2 separate regions of the Homo sapiens genome follow, and region 2 is linked to region 1. A link means that fine-mapping ties the variant in region 1 to the expression of a gene that starts in the linked region. Tissue or cell type: lung. Region 1 holds a variant in brackets; the other region holds the start of a gene. All regions are shown on one strand. Distances are between the middles of the regions.

Region 1 (8,143 bases):
TCCTGTTCTCCTAAGAGCTTTTGGATTTTCACCAAGTTGCTTAATCAGAGATTAGCAGCAGGGACAAGGAAACCTCCGTTGCCCAGCTTTGGAGGAGCTGCCCCAGCCTCCTGCCTCCCTCTGGCACCGTGTGGCACACACACTCTCATCCCCAATCCTGTACAAGCTGCCCTTTATGAAGCATTTTTACTGCAGTCCAAGAGGAGACGTCTTTCCTTGGGATGTTTCAAAGCAAAATCTAGCAAATAACACTGCTTCGTCTGCTCCAGTAACAAGGCTATGTACTGTGGTCAACTTGGACAATTTCCATTCTCCAGTTCTTTAACAAGGAACGTTTCTAGTCCACATCTGAAGTCATCCTGAGGGGGCCTGGCAGAACAGCAGCTGCAATGGCAGGGTCGTCACTGGCTCCACAGCTGCTGCACCACTCCCGGGGCTGCTCCTCAGTCCTACAGAAGTGGTTCTGAGTAAAGAACAGTCACCCCAAAGAATGGGACATACTCTTTTATAAACTCTTCCGGTGGGAAGCTGAGGACTACTGAGCTCTCCACCCTGAAGATGTCTTTCTCCACTCGCTTGTTTTCATCTTAGATTCTGGTGGCCCCAAGTGGCTGCAGCATGGGGTCAGGGTGGTGGCCAGGAAACAAAGGGTGGTTCTAGTCCTTGCTTGCTGCTACTTGTCCATGTGACTTTGGGATCTTTAAGCTCCCTGGGTCTTGATGTACTTTTCTGTAAATTAAATGGCCTGGACCAGGCAAGGCCCAAGTTCTCTCAACCTCCAGTCCTCTCTATGGGCTCCAGGACATGTTCATGGCCCGTCACACCCAGGCTGCAGGATTCTCTCCCTCTGTCAGTGCTAGTTCACACTGCACCAACACGGAGGCCTCTGCATCCACGTCAGAAAAGAAAGGGTCGGTGTCAACAGTCCATCCAAAAAGAATAATTAACTACCTATTATACCTCTTTTGGCCTGCTTTTTTCTCCTGGTTGGGGGGAACTCATGGAGACATAAAAATAAATTAGGGAGTGTCCTTTCGGGAAAGGTATCTTAGCCTTTGGAATAGTCTACTCCCTGTTCAAATGGAAGGTGCAAAAGCCTTTTCTTTTATTTATCTTGTTTTCCATAACATGCCTGTGTCTACTGGAAACCCAACTCCGGGGGTTTCTTCAGCTCATAACTCTGTCACTTCTTCTGTGTGCATTAGTGCCATGGCCACAAGGGCCTCCCATGGGATTGCAGCGGGATGATTTGGCCCCTCTGGGATGGGAAGGGTTTCGAGGTTTCCCTTTGAAGAGACAGGCAGAGAAGAGTTGCCCCTCCTGTTGTAAACCTCCCAGGGTAAGTAGAGCAACGTGAGGTCTGTGCTAAATGTCTCCCACCATCCTCCCTAGTTCCCATTGGCTGCACCTACCACCACATTTCCAGCGTGTTGTACGCTAAGACTTTCTTAACCTTAACCGAGAATGAAAGTGGACTCTACAATTCAAGAGTGAAAGGAGAATGGCCTGATAGGTTTATCTTGGGAGAGGGAGTCCTCCCATGTTCAGATAAAATTTCAGATTAAACATTTTCCTCTTAGAAACCAGGCCTGGCGGGAGTTAGAGCTGTCATGGGAGGAGTTTTACTGGAAAACCAGACACCATCACCCCTCAACCAGTCCTGCCTGCCCAGCCTCTGTCCCACCGGATGAAGATACAGACCTGCTCCCCAGCTCTGCCTAATGAACCTTTAACTGTCATTTGCATCCAAACGGGGAGCTCGGAGGAAGCCTCCAGCTCTTTGCACTCCCTACTTTCACTCATGTTTCAGGAAGTCCTAACAGCCAGAAAAGTCCTGATGGGGGCCTGGAGGGAGCTCTCATGGACCCAACTAACTGAACTTTCCCTGGCTGGCTTCCTAAAGCATCTGCTTTCTTAAACAGCCACAGCCAGAATGGAGAACAGAATCGTGTAGGTGAAAGGAGGTGGGAGGAAAGACGGATTTCTTAGTTGTTTTGTCTTCTCCGGGTAGAACATTTGGTGAAATCCATAAAATTATGTCTTTTTTTTTCATTATTTTGGAATAAAACTCCCCTTAAGTAGCATTCCTTTGAATCTGTGCTCTGATAGCATCTTAATGAAAATAGCAGTTTCCTGTCTGGAAAGATTCCTAATAGCCATAGAAATGAGAAGACCATGGGGACAAAGAGGAAATCAGACTGTGTAGGAAATGCTGATTACAAATATTGTATGTTGGTGGCTCACAGGAACTAAAATACTACCAAGATTAGAGTTTTTCCTGCTAGTTTCCTGGACAGACCCAGGCGGAACATCAAAGGCTGAGACCTGCTATATGCCCATCCTGCACCCCAGGACCAGCTCTGACCACCCGACGATCTTCTCTGGCTGTTAGTGACAGAAACGTCCTAAGTTATCCATCAGGTTCTGGTACTAGTCACTGAATGTTTAAAAAATGTGGTGTGATTTCAGAAGCCTTCTTATTTCTTATATTTATTCAGTAGATTTTTTTTTGGCCTTCAAAATATTGACTTAAGAAAAGCATTTAGTAGTTGTCTTTAAGACATTTATGACTCTCCCATAAAAATTCTCATTCGGTCTTTGATCACAACATATATATCGTGTATATTCTGTCTATGGTTATTTTGAAACATTCATCAGAGAGGCAACACGGCTCAACAGAACAGACCCTGTAGAGTTCTGGGAACCTGTATGTGTTTTCTCTGTGTCTGGCATACAGAAGGTGCTTTACACATGCTGTCATGAAGACTCACAGGACTGTGTAAGATGTATATCATTAAAATTCTTTTTTCTCCACAGGAGAAAATAAAAATTTAGAGAAATTAAGTTTCCCAAAATTATTCAGCTAATGGCAGAATAATAATACCCAACATTTATTGGACCCTATATTGCCTATATAGACACTTTATCTTTATGATCTCATTTAATCCTCCTAATTGAAACCAACCCAATAGTCCCATAGACAGTTTTGTTTTTGTTTTTTTGTTTTTTTAACATAGAAATGACCCTTCTGGTCTTAAAGCTTGACATTTGTATTTGTTTTATCTGAGTTCCTTCCTTAGGTAGGGACCCACAGGCCTCTCGAAAAGTAGCAAAGATCTGAAACTCACCCAATGATCTCATCCAGACAACGAGATGCTAAGCCCCTCATTCATCTTGATTGCTTCCTTACCCCTACTGATTCCTGTTTTCTTACACATTGTTAACATTTCTTCCCTGCTATATAAACCCCTAATTTTAGTCAGTCAAGGATATGGATTTAAGACTAATCTGCCACCTCCTTGGCTATAGCACCAGATAAAGCCTTCTTCCTTGGCTATAATTGTTGTTTCAGTGATTGGCTTTCTGTGCAGCTGTGGGTGGCAGGACCTACACTGAACCTCTGGCATCCAGTAAGTTCTCATATTACCCAACTTTACAGATGCAGAAGCAGACATTAAGTAACATGCCCAAGGTCACGAAAAAGCAGGGGAGCAGGGACAGGAACCCAGGCAGCCCATCTCCAGAGGGCTGCCCTACAGTTAGCACTCCTGTCCCATCAAACTTCTTGACTTACCTCTCTTTTGGGCCAGAGTCTGAGGCTGCAATCCAGACCTCATGGCATGCCACTGAGCAATGCTGGGCCACCCACTTTCTGACCTGAGCCTCTGCTTTGTGTCCTTGGGGTGGCATTACCCACCTCCCAGGGCAGTGGAGCATTAAAGGACAGAAGCATGTCAGTCCCCTTCTTCCCATACGATATTCCACATGGGAAAGTGAGGACAGGGGGTAGATTACTGAAAAGCAATGATACTCTGTCTCCCTCCTTCTCTCTCCATTGAGAAAGTCTGCAAATACCTGTTGACAGGCAGAGCTCAACAGAACACAGATCCTTCACTGCCTGTACTGTGTGAACAATGATTCTTCACGTTCATAAATCTGTCTCTTTCTTTCTTTCTTTTTTTTTTTTTTTGAGACCAAGTTTCGCTCTTGTTGCCCAGGCTGGAGTGCAATGGCATGACCTCGGCTCGCTGCAACCTCCGCTTCCTAGGTTCAAGTGATTCTCCTGCCTCAGCCTCCCAAGTAGCTGGGATTACAGGCATGTGCCGTCACGCCCAGCTAATTTTGTATTTTTAGTAGAGACGAGGTTTCACCATGTCGGTCAGGCTGGTCTCCAACCCCTGACCTCAAGTGATCCACTCACCTCAGCCTCCGAAAGTTCTAGGATTACAGGCGTGAGCCACCGCGTCCGGCCCAACTCATCTCTTTCTACCAGTCGTTTCCCTCTAAACTCCTCCGGAAGGGAAAGGGAGGCAGGGAGTAAGTATGGGAGGAAAAGCTGGCGTGTGCACGTGATGGGGGTGGAGAGGGGGCTGGGGAAGGCCGCAGGACACAGAGAGGCAGGGCTGGGTTGGCCTTGGCCCTGGGGAAGGTGGCCTGGATCTGCCTCAGCTGGGATCTGAT[G/T]ACTGGATTGCTAAAAACAAGCCCATGAGCTCCCCCTGAGCTCCAAAGTCGGGGGCAGTGGAGAGGGGATGTTTCACAGCCTCCCACTCTCCTCTGGAATCTGGAGGTGGGGGCGGGGGTGGCAGGGGGACGCCAGGCTTAGACGTGGGGCAGCCTTCCTGGGAGAAGCATGATGTTTTTCCCCAATGATGGTCATTGTTTCAATCAATATGGCAACACTACACAAAACAGTTCATATTGCTATCTTTAGGGGCAACAGTTTAAAAGTCATACTGCTTCAACCTTAAAAAACTCCTCTTGGGAGGCTGACGGAAGGATCATAACCACACCAGGATTTTAAGTTTACGGATTTTGTGGTCCCAGGGAATTGCCTACACTCAAGCTGCACGTTCCTGGGGCCAAATACACATTTTGCAGTTCCACTTCCAAACGCACGCCCCGCCCCCACCCCCCGTCAGCACTCACCCGGCCCCCCATCAGCGCCCGCTCCCCCAACTCCTCATCAACCCCCGCCCCGCACCGACACCCACTCCTCCATCAGCCCCCGCCCGCGGTACTCACGCGGGACGCCCTGCTGCAGGGAGCTGCCCCGGAACAGCGTCGGGGGCGTCTTCCGGCCCAGCCTCTTGATCAGGCGGTCGCGCTCGTTCAGCCTGCGGATAAAGCAAGCGCGTCAGTCTCTTGTCACCTGAACACTCGGGTTGCACAAGGAGACAGACAGAAGGGGGTGGGATGAGGTGGGGGATCACCTCCCCACGTCGGGTAAGGCGTGGTGCTTCACCAGCGGCCCGTGATTTCCAGCAGATGCCATCTGGGCGCCTCAATGCTGGCTCCCTGTTGTGGAAAACGCCGTTTCCAGTCCCTCCCTTAGCCAGCGCTTCCTGCTCGCTGAAGTGTGCATGTGCCCGGTCCATACCCGCGGGACCGTGGGCTTTTCAGGACACTTCTCCAAGGAGAGGCCTGTTTCCGGGTAAACATCTCCGCGCCTCACTCCTGCCTGCAGCCCCCTGCCTGCACGGGGTGAGAGCCCCGCGGAGGCCTCAGGACCCCAGCCACAGCCCAGCTTCGTTCTGCAGAACTTGATTATTTTGAACCCCAATGAACATCAAGGCGAGTTTTCTTCTAAAACAGACGGCTAAGGAGCAGTCCCTGCCTTTCCTGAACCTATTCCCTTCAAGGTTGCCACTGCTGTGAAGACATGTGGAACTGTTCTGGAGCTTGGCTATTTCTATACTATTTTATTTTTTTAAAAAGATGGGGTCTCACTGTCGTCCAGACTGGAGTGCAGTGGCACAATCATAGCTCACTGCAGCCTCGAACTCCTGGGCTCAAGCAACTCTCCCACCTCAGCCTCCTGAGTAGCTGGGACCCCAGGTGTGCATCACCACACCTGGCTAATTTTAAACATTTTTTGCAGAGACAGGGCCTTGCTTTGCTGCCCAAGCTGGTCTCAAACTCCTGGCTTCAAGTGATCCTCCTGCCTCGGCCTCCCAAAGTGCTAGGATTACAGGTGTGAGCCACCATGCCCAGTCTGTTTATTTCTATAAGCCCAAAGGGACTGCTTGAAAACTGCCCAGGCAGGTCAAAGTGCTTTGATTTTTACTATCAGGCTCTCATTTCGCTTGTCATTACAGGAGTTTGCCAGTGACCTAGAGGCATAATAGATTATGGGCTGAATGGTGTCCCCTCTAAATTCACATGTTGAAGTCTTTACCCCTAGTACCTCAGAATGGGACTGTATTTGGAAACAGGGCCTTTAAAGTGGTAATTAAGGTGAAATGAGGTCATCAGGGTGGGCCCTAATCCAGCATGGCTGCTGTCCTAATAAGAAGAGGAGATGAGGACACAGGCATACACGGAGGGAAGACCACAGAGCACACAGCCACCTGTAAGCCAAGGAGAGTGCTCGCATGAGAAACCAATCTGTAAGTAGCTCGAGTATGGACTTCCAGCCTCCAGACTGTGACAAACTCAATTTCTGCTGTTTAAGCCACACAGCCTATGGCACTTTATTGCGGCAGCCCAGGCAGACAAATACAGACCCCCCTTACGTTTGTGGGAACGTGAGGGGATACGGAGTTGTAGAAGAAGCTGCAGGTGCTTGAATCCCATGTACCCTGCCCCCGATCGATCAGTGAGCCTGGAGCCTGAGGAGGCCCCTCCCATGACTGCAGACCCACCTAGCTCCCTCAGGGCCATCGAAAGAGGAGTGGGGCCCTGGCTCTTCTTCACAGTTCTTTGAGCTGAAGTTCATTTTGAATTTCCAGGAGAGGGCATTTCTGAGTGCCTTGGTTGAAATAACAATGTTTAATTCATTCCCAATTAAGGGTGAGCCTCAGCTAGCTAAGCTTGGCAAAACGTCTCATGGCTGAGGAAGAAAAATACTTTCTCCATCCTTTCACACTGGTCCTCCCTCCCGTCTCCTCTTTCTTCCATGGGCCAAATTAATCTCACCGGGTCTGGCTGAGCAATTGCCCTGGAAGGCATGGTTGTGCAAACACAGGAGGAGTGAGCCCGTGGCACCTGTCCCTCTGTGTAGCTGCCATCACCGACTGTCCACAGCTCCCTGTGCTGCCTGGTTTCAGAATGTGGCAGGTATAAAGAAGGGCCTGTCCTCCCTGTCCAACACGTGCCCAGCACTGGCCATGACTCCTGCACAAAATAAAGGGCACTGTGTGCAGAGGGGGCCCCTCACCCTGCCTGGCCCCAGGGTAGCCTCACCAGCCAGGCCCCACATGGGGACATAATGGGCAACTGACACATTATTTTCTCAGAAGCTGGAGACCATGCAGGACTAGGCTCTGCCCCCATGCCCCTGGACCACAGGGACATGCCTCCTGAACCACCCTGGCCATCCCAGAAGCTCCTCCTCATGATGGGGCTTATGAGAATGTCACAGATCCTCAGAAATGGGAGGGATCATTGAAATTATACATGTTGGCCTCTCACCAGGCAGGTGAGAAAACAGACTCAGCTGTGTCAAATAACTTGACAAAGGTCAGATGGGGCTTTGCTGGCAGGGCTCCTGTGCTGGCAGACGCCGCCTAGATGCCGCCTAGAGTGGTGAATGCTTTTCTCTGTCTTCTTTTTTTATAATTAATTTTTTTCTTTTTGTTTTTGAGACAGAGTCTTGCTTGTTGCCCAGGCTGGAGTGCAGTGGCGCAATCTCGGCTCACTGCAGCCTCTGCCTACTAGGTTCAAGCGATTCTCCTGCCTCAGCCTCCTGAGTAGCTGGGATTACAGGCACTTGCCACCAGGCCTGGCTAATTTTTGTATTTTTAGTAGCGATGGGGTTTTGCCATGTTGGCCAGACTGGTCTTGAACTCCTGACCTCAGGTGATCCGCCCACTTCAGCCTCCGAAAGTGCTGGCATTACAGGCATGAGCCACTGTGCTCAGCCTATAATGAGATATTATTTAAAAATGTGACTTCTTGCTTCAGAGGGACCCACTCTGTGCCGCAGCCCTTCCTCCACACACTGTGAGGGGTCCACAGCCAAGGAGGTACACCCTCCCATGGCCCAGGCCTGCCATCCACCACCTCAGTTATTTGGGACCCTAGAAGTCCCTGCTCAATGACCACCCAGGCCTCCATCCAAGGCTAACTTGACTCCATCCTGAGCTCCATCCCCCTAAAAGTAGACCATATAGCCAATGTGCACACCCCAGGTCTGTGGGGGTGG
Region 2 (8,143 bases), 640 kb after region 1:
CAGCTGCCCTGATTCTCCTCCTTGAAACTTGGGGCAGGTTGTTCTGGCAAAAACAGAAAACACACATTAAAAAATACCTTTGATGACCAGCAGAGGGCAGGGTGAGTTGGGTGTGGAATTTAGAGGAGGGCTCCAGGGGCAGTTTCTAGAAGGTTTGTAGTCCTGGTCCAAACGGTGGCTCACGCCTGTAATCCCAGCACTTAGGGAGGTCGAGGTGGGTGGATCACGAGGTTAAGAGATCGAGACAATCCTGGCCAACATGGTGAAACCCCGTATCTACTAAAAATACAAAAATTAGCTGAGTGTGGTGGTGGGAGCCTATAATCCCAGCTACTTGGGAGGCTGAGGCAGCAGAATTGCTTGAACCCGGGAGGCGGAGGTTGCAGTGAGCCGAGATCACACCACTGCACTCCAGCCTGACGACAGGCTCAAAATAAAAAAAAAAAAAGAATATTTGTAGTCCTCTGGGTTCTGCACTTGGTCTGTGCACTTCCTGCCTGCCCGTTCTTTCACTAAGTCCAGAAATGCGGTAAGATAGGGAAGAGCTTCTGCCATAGACAGCACTGATGCTGTCGTCCATAGAAAACAACTTCCTTCCTTTCTGTCCCCACTCCTCCCCTCCCACAACCCCCAACACCCATATTCACATGTACACCCTTAATTTCCTTACTCATCTGGGTCAAGGTGAGAGAAGAGAGTTGAGAGCTCTTCCCACGTGCACTGTAGTCACTGCCTAGACCATAAGCTCTGTGAGACACACTGCTGTGTTCCCTGCTCTGTCTCTAGCACCTAGAACCATGCCGGGCACATAGAAGGCACTGATATATATTTGTCACTGACTTTGTTTCCATTCTAAGGGGCTCCACCCTGAGCAGACTGTAAGCACTATACGGGCAAGAGGATCCCCATGGTCACAAATCTTTGGATTTTCATCATTTGGTAAAATGAGACACACTGGCACCAAGTAGATATTTGGGGAAAGCTAAAACTGATCAAAGTGCAATTGAATATGCAGAACAAGATAAGAGTCAAAGATGGCTCAGACAAGAAAATATTCCAGAATTATTTTTAAAAATAGTATACAGCTCAGCATATACTCTTGAAGCTGACTGTGATCTGCAATCCTTTCATCATTAGTTTATTTTTTAATAATGAGAAGTAGCAGACTTCACTAAAAATCACACATCTTTGTTTAGTATTTTTATGGGAGTACACGATTGTCAGGCCCTCTGCCCCTGTTTCCATCAGTGTCCCCAGGAGCCCACACTATGCAGATCCTCTTTCTTCTCCATACATTATGCAAATACCCTAAACAGGCCCCATCTCAGAGCCTCCACTCTGTCTCCTGGAACTTTCAGCCTATCATCAGCAAGATCCCTCACAACCCGACCCCTCTGACTATTCCTGAAACTTCTTGCCTTAACTGCTCTGCCAGGAGGACCCTGCTTCTCACGGTTACTCTCAGATCACTGCCTTCCCCCCTGCTCCCTAAAAGCTTCCTGCGTTGATGTTCATGCCGTCAGACTGTAGAACAGTCTCAAAACAAAGCGACCTCTCTTGAACTCACATTTTCCTCCAGCTACCACTCGATCTGCTTCTCCCCCTGCCTTTTCTGCAATATTCACTCAAAAGAGTTTTCCGGACTTGCTGTTTCCAGTTCCTGTCCTGTTACTCTTACACCTGCTCTATTAGGCGTTCTTCCCCACAATGATATGTTAACAGCTCTTTTCAAGATCACCAGTGACCTCCACTTACATGACAGTTCTCCAGCCTCATCTTTATTGAGCTCAGCAGCACTGGGCACAGGTACACCCCACCCCTTCCTGAACATCTCCACACTGAGTTTCAGAGCACTCCCTCCGGGTTTCCGGGGACCTCCCTGGCCATCCTCTCAGGCCCCTTCTGTTGACCCTCATCTCCCTAACCTCAAAATGTTAGAGTGCCCAGGACTCTATCCAAGGACCCCTCTTTTCTAAGTCACATCTGTACACATTGACAGCTGATCACATAATTCTTAGGGGCCCGTGTAAAATGAAAAGGTGGGCCCCTTGTTCAAAAATTAAGACTTTCAAGACAGCAACACTGGGCAGAACATCCAAGCAAGTGCTGACTCTTGTAAGAGCCAGACTCTGAGCAGCTGCAGGGCATACACTCTTGGAGCCGGTCCTGCCGACGACTCTTGAATCTCTATGTCTGGCCTTGCACACTCCCCGGAGCCCCAGACTCATAAATCCAGCTCTCTACTAATCATCTCCTCTTGGATCTATGGTAGGCATTTCAGACCAAATTCTTCACACCCTCCCTTACCGCAAAAGAGAACCCTGGTCCTCCGCAGTTTCCCCATCTCAGCAAGGGGTGCATTCTTCCGGTGTCTCAGACCAAAACCCTTGGGGGCATCTTTGATTCTTTTCTTGTACTGAAGCCCCACATCCAAATCATAAGCAAATGCCTTTGGCCCCACCTGCAAAGGTACAGAGGGTGTCCCCAGGTCTCCTCAGGCTGCCTCCACCTTGGGAAATTCTCACACCTGTATGACTGCGCCCTCCCACTGTCTCTCTGCCACAGCTCTTCCCTGCTATTTAGTCTTGACCCTGCACCCCGTGACCCCTTCAGGCTGGGATTCTCCTCAAAATGAATGTGAAAGTGTCCTGACTTTACCCAAGTTTAACAAACATTGGCTTAAATTACCTGATAAGCTTGCTTCCCTCTCACGTTACTCAACTACAGAAATACAAAAGTCGCTTATTTTTATGTGCCTATTTTCTCAAAACAAATAAAAAAGCACGAAGACAAGTGACCCCAGCTCCAAACTGTACACCCTCTACCTTCCTCATGTCAAAGATCTACCTGCAAACTTGCCGCAGTCCTGAAACGGTAAGAAATCATTTTTGGGGCTCCTCTTTACGTCTGCATTAACTAATGGTCTAGGTAACCCTATCAAGTGTCATAGCCACATAACATCCAGCTCCACGACATCATAGTTTCTAAATGTGTTCTATAATCATAGAACGCGGGCCTCTAACAGTGTGAGTGGTCGGGTATGGTACATGCGTGTTTGGCTTTAGGTTTCGAGTTCCAACACCCAGGCGCCTGCAGGCAGGGTATGTGTACGCGTGCGTGTGTACGTGTGTGTGTACCTGTGTGTGTGTGTGCGCGCGCGTGTGCGTGTGTGTGTTCGTCTCCAGATGGTTGTATGCACGGATGGTTATGAGCCAGTACGTCGCCGCTGTGAGCGCGCGAGGACCCGGGGCTCCAAGTGGTGAGAATCACTCGAGGGACCCTTCGGATGCCTTTTTCCCCCTCTGCTTTTGAGCTCTGCAGCACAGCGGTGCCGGCCGCCGGCAGGGAAGGCTGCATCTTCTCTGCGCCGCCAAACCGTGCCCACCATCGCGGTGACTGCCGCCTAGGTCGCATCCCTGAGCCGCATCCGCGCGTAGGGGCGCACGGGCACGCGCACAGGGAGGCCGCACACACACACACACATCTGTACAGGGACGAGCCGGGGGTCTCTGACGCCCGCCGCTCACCTCGCCCCGGCCTGGAGCCTTTTGGCCCCGCAGGTGCAGCGACGCCCAGCCCCCGTGCGGCCAGCGCGCCGCGTCGGCGGATCCTGCAGCCCAGAGAGCCCAGGGAGCCCAGGGAGGGGAGCGGGGCGCGGGCGGGGCAGTGTCGCATAACCGCAGGCGCGCCCCGCGCCGCCCCCGCCCCGGGCCCACCCTCCCTCGCCGCGCCCCTCCCAGCTCACCCACGGACGAGCGGATCCTCGACCTCCGCGGCAGGGACATCTTAAGAGCTTTGTCCAGGCCTGCGCCGTTCAGCATCTCGCCCGTGTCGGGGGCTCGGCGGCCCCGGGCGAGAGACGGAGGCTACGCGCAGGGCTGGGCGCAGGGGCCGCCGCCCGAGGACCATGGGTGGGCCAGCGCCTCGCCGGGCTGCTAGCTGGCGGGGACCGCCGGCGCCTGTGCCGGGCCGCGCCCGAGGCTGCGCCGTCCGTGCCGCAGCGGCCAATGCGGCAGCATCCGCGAACGCCACCGCGGCGGGCCCCGCTGGCCCGGGCTGCGGCGTGGGGGCGGGGGACCGGCCCTGAGCGGAGCCCCGCGGGAGGAGGAGCGGACGGGAGGCTGGGAGGGATCCGCAATATTACGCAGGACCGGGGCTTTTAGGTGTCGGGGAAGGCGATGGGGAGGGCTTGGTGGGGTGGGAGATTGGGCCTGTACTTTCGGGGGCTCTTCCAGGAGAGGGGTGCACCTGGGGGACTCGGAGTCTCTGCCTGTCTGCTACCTATTTACCTGCCTGTCACTTGTCCTGTGCAAGTGGAGGCGCTGTGATTCCCCAGGACTCATCCAGTCCCTTTCTTTTCGCAGTTTCTGTTCTTCCGTGCCCAGCCTGGTGGGATCTGTGTAGGGACTTCGTGGAAGGGTTATTTCCAAGGTGTCTGATGTGTGGCTTGGCACTCAGAGAAGTCGGGGGTCTCCAGCCCCCCACTCTCCACAACCTGCCTGACATTCTAACTACGCATATTAAAGCTGCAGGTAGCCCTAGGGAACCTTAACAGCAACCTTCTCAACCCCCGCACGCACACACACACACACACACACCCATCGACACACACACACACACACACAGACCCATCGACACACACACACACACACCCATCGACACACACACACACACACCTTCTTTCATAAAACAAAACCATCGAGAGGTAAGATGACTTGTCCAAGGTCACTTGATCTATTTTTTGTTTTTTCTTATCGCGTAATGTTTAGACTGTGCTTGGTCTTTCTGGGCACAATCCCATGAAGATAAGAAGCTATCTTTATTGTGCCTGATGACATTCTGACCTCGGAGTAAAAACGGAACAAAACAAAAATAAAACTGTTCAGGTGAAAGTCTGACCTTGCTTTTACTGATGCGAGCATTACATTTCTTTTAACCTAAATTAACATTAGGGACTGACAAGGAGTAGTACAGAGTTCAGCAAAAAGAATCTGTGCTAGCAAAGACAGCAGTGCGGCCTGAGCTCCTCCTGCCTGGCCTCTGCATCTGATTTTATTTTCTTTTACTTTTTTTTTTTCTTTGACAGAGTTTTGCTCTTGTTGCCCAGGCTGGAGTGCAATGGCGCTATCTCGGCCCACTGCAACCTCCGTCGCCCGGGTTCAAGTGATTCTTGTGTCTCAGCCTCCCGAGTAGCTGGGATTACAGGCGCCCACCACCACGCCCAGCTAATTTTTGTATTTTTAGTAGAGACGGGGTTTCACTAAGTTGGCCAAGCTGGTCTCGAACTCCTGACCTCAGGCGATCCACCTGCCTCGGCCTCCCAAAGTGCTGGGATTACAAGCGTGAGCCACCACCCCCGGCCTCTGCTTCTAATTTTCTTAAGAACAAACATCCAGGCCGCGCGTGGTGGCTCACGCCTGTAATCCCAGCACTTTGGGAGGCAAAGGCGGTCAGATCATGAGGTCAGGAGATGGAGACCATCCTGGCTACCGCGGTGAAACCCCGTCTCTACTAAAAATACAAAAAAAAAATCGCCGGGTGTGGTGGCAGGTGCCTGTAGTCCCAGCTACTCGGGAGGCTGAGGCAGGAGAATCGCTTGAACCCAGGAGGTGGAGGTTGCAGTGAGCGGAAATCATGTCACTGCACTCCAGCCTGGGTGCCAGAGTAAGACTCCACCAAAAACAAAACAAGACAAAACAAAAAACAACATCCAAAGGGACAGGCAACTTACACTGAAAACTGCAGGCTGGCAAGAATCTACACTAAATGTAGCTTCAGGTAGGATTCTTTACCTGTCTCTTCTGGGCCCTCAAAAAATTTTTCTGATAAGAAATGAATCTTTATCAGGAAGATGAATCAAAATAAAATTTTCTAAATTGTTGAGCTAAGCTTCAGAGTGGGAGAGGTTTTCTCAGTGGATCTTCATTGCTGCTGAGGATAAATCTTAAAGCTGGGGCTAATCCTAGGACTGGATTTGTCAAAAACTTGTCACTATGCTTCAGTAAATCTTCTGTCTATGATAACACCTTGAGGACCTAACCAGAATTGAAAGGAACTTAAAAGGAAAATGTGGTTTTTTTCAATCCCCAAACTTCAAGATAAATAGAAAACATTTTGGGTTTTTTTGCTCTGACTTAGGTGGGAATAGAAAGAGTAGATAAAGGTTATTTTTAATTTTTAAGAAGCAGAGTATGTTATATATAGAATATTTGCCTTGATCACTGAAGAGTGACCAAATGTCCCACCCTGACTTTGTGCAGCCCCATCATGAAACAGAGTTGTTGCTGCTCTTTCTATGTTTATCTTCCAATAACCAAACTGCCCTGACAGCTTTGTAGGTGTGTGAAATATACCTCAGTTGGTGCACCTTGAAGATCACAGCATAGACTGCAAGGAGCAGTAGGTGAATATTTCACAGCAACTTGTGTTGTCTCTTTGATGTCTTGGTTAATTCCCCTGATCTGACTGCCTCTTGGAATGTTGGGGAGATCAGTAGGTTGGCATTGGCCAGAGTCAGACCTAAATCCCATCTCTGAGGTCTTCAAGGGAAATATATGCACAAAGGACAAAAGCTAGCAAATGGACAGTATTTATTATTATGCTTAGAATCCAGTGCCGATGTGGATCACCCTGTGACCCAGGCTTGGCTTGGAGACATCCTTTCACCCTTGCCAGAGGCAGCCTAGGTTAGAACCAAAGGAGATAAAGAAGCCTGTGAGGAGAAACAGCAAACGCAAAAGGCACCGCAACCAGGACAGTCAGGGAAATGTGCTCTGTCTGTGAAAGCAAGAACTCCTCAACAAAGAGAGTTTGCCTCAATTCTTAGAGCCACGACCCTACGCGTTCACAAGACAGGTAGAAAGGCAGCCTGCAGCCCCCAGTAGGAGCCACACCAAGTCCCTAGCACTGTGGGTCGATGAGTGTCATTGAACTTAACTAAGCCAGAGCAGCCCTTTCCTCCTGGAGGAGGAAGTGAAGGGAAAGGGAGAATTCTTTTTCTTTCCCTGAAAGGCAGCTGTCGTCATCCTCTCATTATTCTGTGTGCCCCTCTCCTTATGCAATAAGTTGAGCCAAGACAGACTGATCTCCCAGGAGAGGATCCGACCCTCCAGTGCTGTGACGGCACAGAGGCTGCCTCTCCCTTTCCCGGTGATTCCCAAGGAAGGAGAGGCCAGATCGCTTCTCTTGGCAGCCCACTCCAGTGTTCAAGAACTAGTGTTTTGAAGCAGTTTGTCCTCTGAACATCTTAAATTTCTACTATTTTAACTTAAGCCTATCCTTCCTTTTTAGTCTTCATGGTCCTAGAAAACAGTCAGTTGGCATCCTTCTCAAGAAGTTCTTTTATACAAACGAAGACTTCAAGCCATCTCTTAAGCCCTTCTTTTCCTCAAACTAAAAAAGCCCCATTTCCTTTTTAAAATGCTTATGTGTGCGTCTTTACCTTTTATATCTGTATACATATATGTATATATGTGTAAACATTTTATCACTTTTTTATTTGAGACAGAGTCTCACCCTTTTGCCCAGGATGGAGTATACTGGTGTGAACATGGCTAACTGAAGCCTCAACCTCCTAGGCTCAAGCAATTCTCCTCCATTAGCCTCCCAAATAGCTGGGACCACAGGCACGTGCCACCACACCCAGCTACTTTTTGTATTTTTTGTAGAGACAGGATTTCACCATGTTGCCCAGGCTGGTCTCAAATTCCTGAACTCAAACCATCCTCCTGCCTCACCTTCCCCAAGTGCTGGGATTACAGACATGAGCCACCGCATCTGTCTACATAAACACTTTAAAAAGAAAATGGCATATAAGTAGCATGTTAAAAATTATACGTAAGCATGTACCAATCATCCTTGTACCTGTTCTCCTGTTTAGGAAACAAAGCAGTATAGGCCTGTTGAAAGCCATTTGTGTACTCACCCCTAATCCCTTTCCTTTCCCTCTGTCCGCAGACCAGTATCTTCATAGGATCTCTTTCCTCTCTCTTGATTATTATCTAAAAACTAACAACTAAAAGAGACACCCCGACAGCATTGGGCAAAGGATCCGGGAAGGGAGATGATTTAATGGAAATCTTTCTTCTTCGTCTTCTTTTTTTTTTGAGATGGAGTCTCGCTCTGTCACCCAGGCTGGAGTGCA

Direction of the effects. Positions count from the first base shown, and alleles are read on the strand shown. Sizes are in standard deviations (SD) of each study's normalised expression.
For the expression in lung of the gene that starts at base 4,060 in region 2, allele T in region 1 goes with a higher level than allele G (moderate effect, 0.51 SD a copy in GTEx).

The links. PIP is the estimated chance that this variant, and not a neighbour inherited with it, causes the effect.
Region 2: ATP8A2 starts here. The variant in region 1 is fine-mapped to the expression of ATP8A2 in lung (GTEx, PIP above 0.99).

Annotation. Positions count from the first base shown.
Region 1 is chr13:26,009,502-26,017,644 of GRCh38, reverse strand. ATP8A2 (ATPase phospholipid transporting 8A2) reads right to left here. Exons shown (of 37, transcript NM_016529.6): 36 at 5,023-5,114. Among named protein-coding and RNA genes, the nearest start is that of SHISA2, 38 kb to the left of the region's middle. RefSeq lists enhancers at 4,784-5,284, 5,285-5,785. The variant G/T (reference allele first, on the strand shown) is at 4,462.
Region 2 is chr13:25,367,891-25,376,033 of GRCh38, reverse strand. ATP8A2 (ATPase phospholipid transporting 8A2) reads right to left here and starts at 4,060. Exons shown (of 37, transcript NM_016529.6): 1 at 3,746-4,060. The coding sequence starts at 3,821.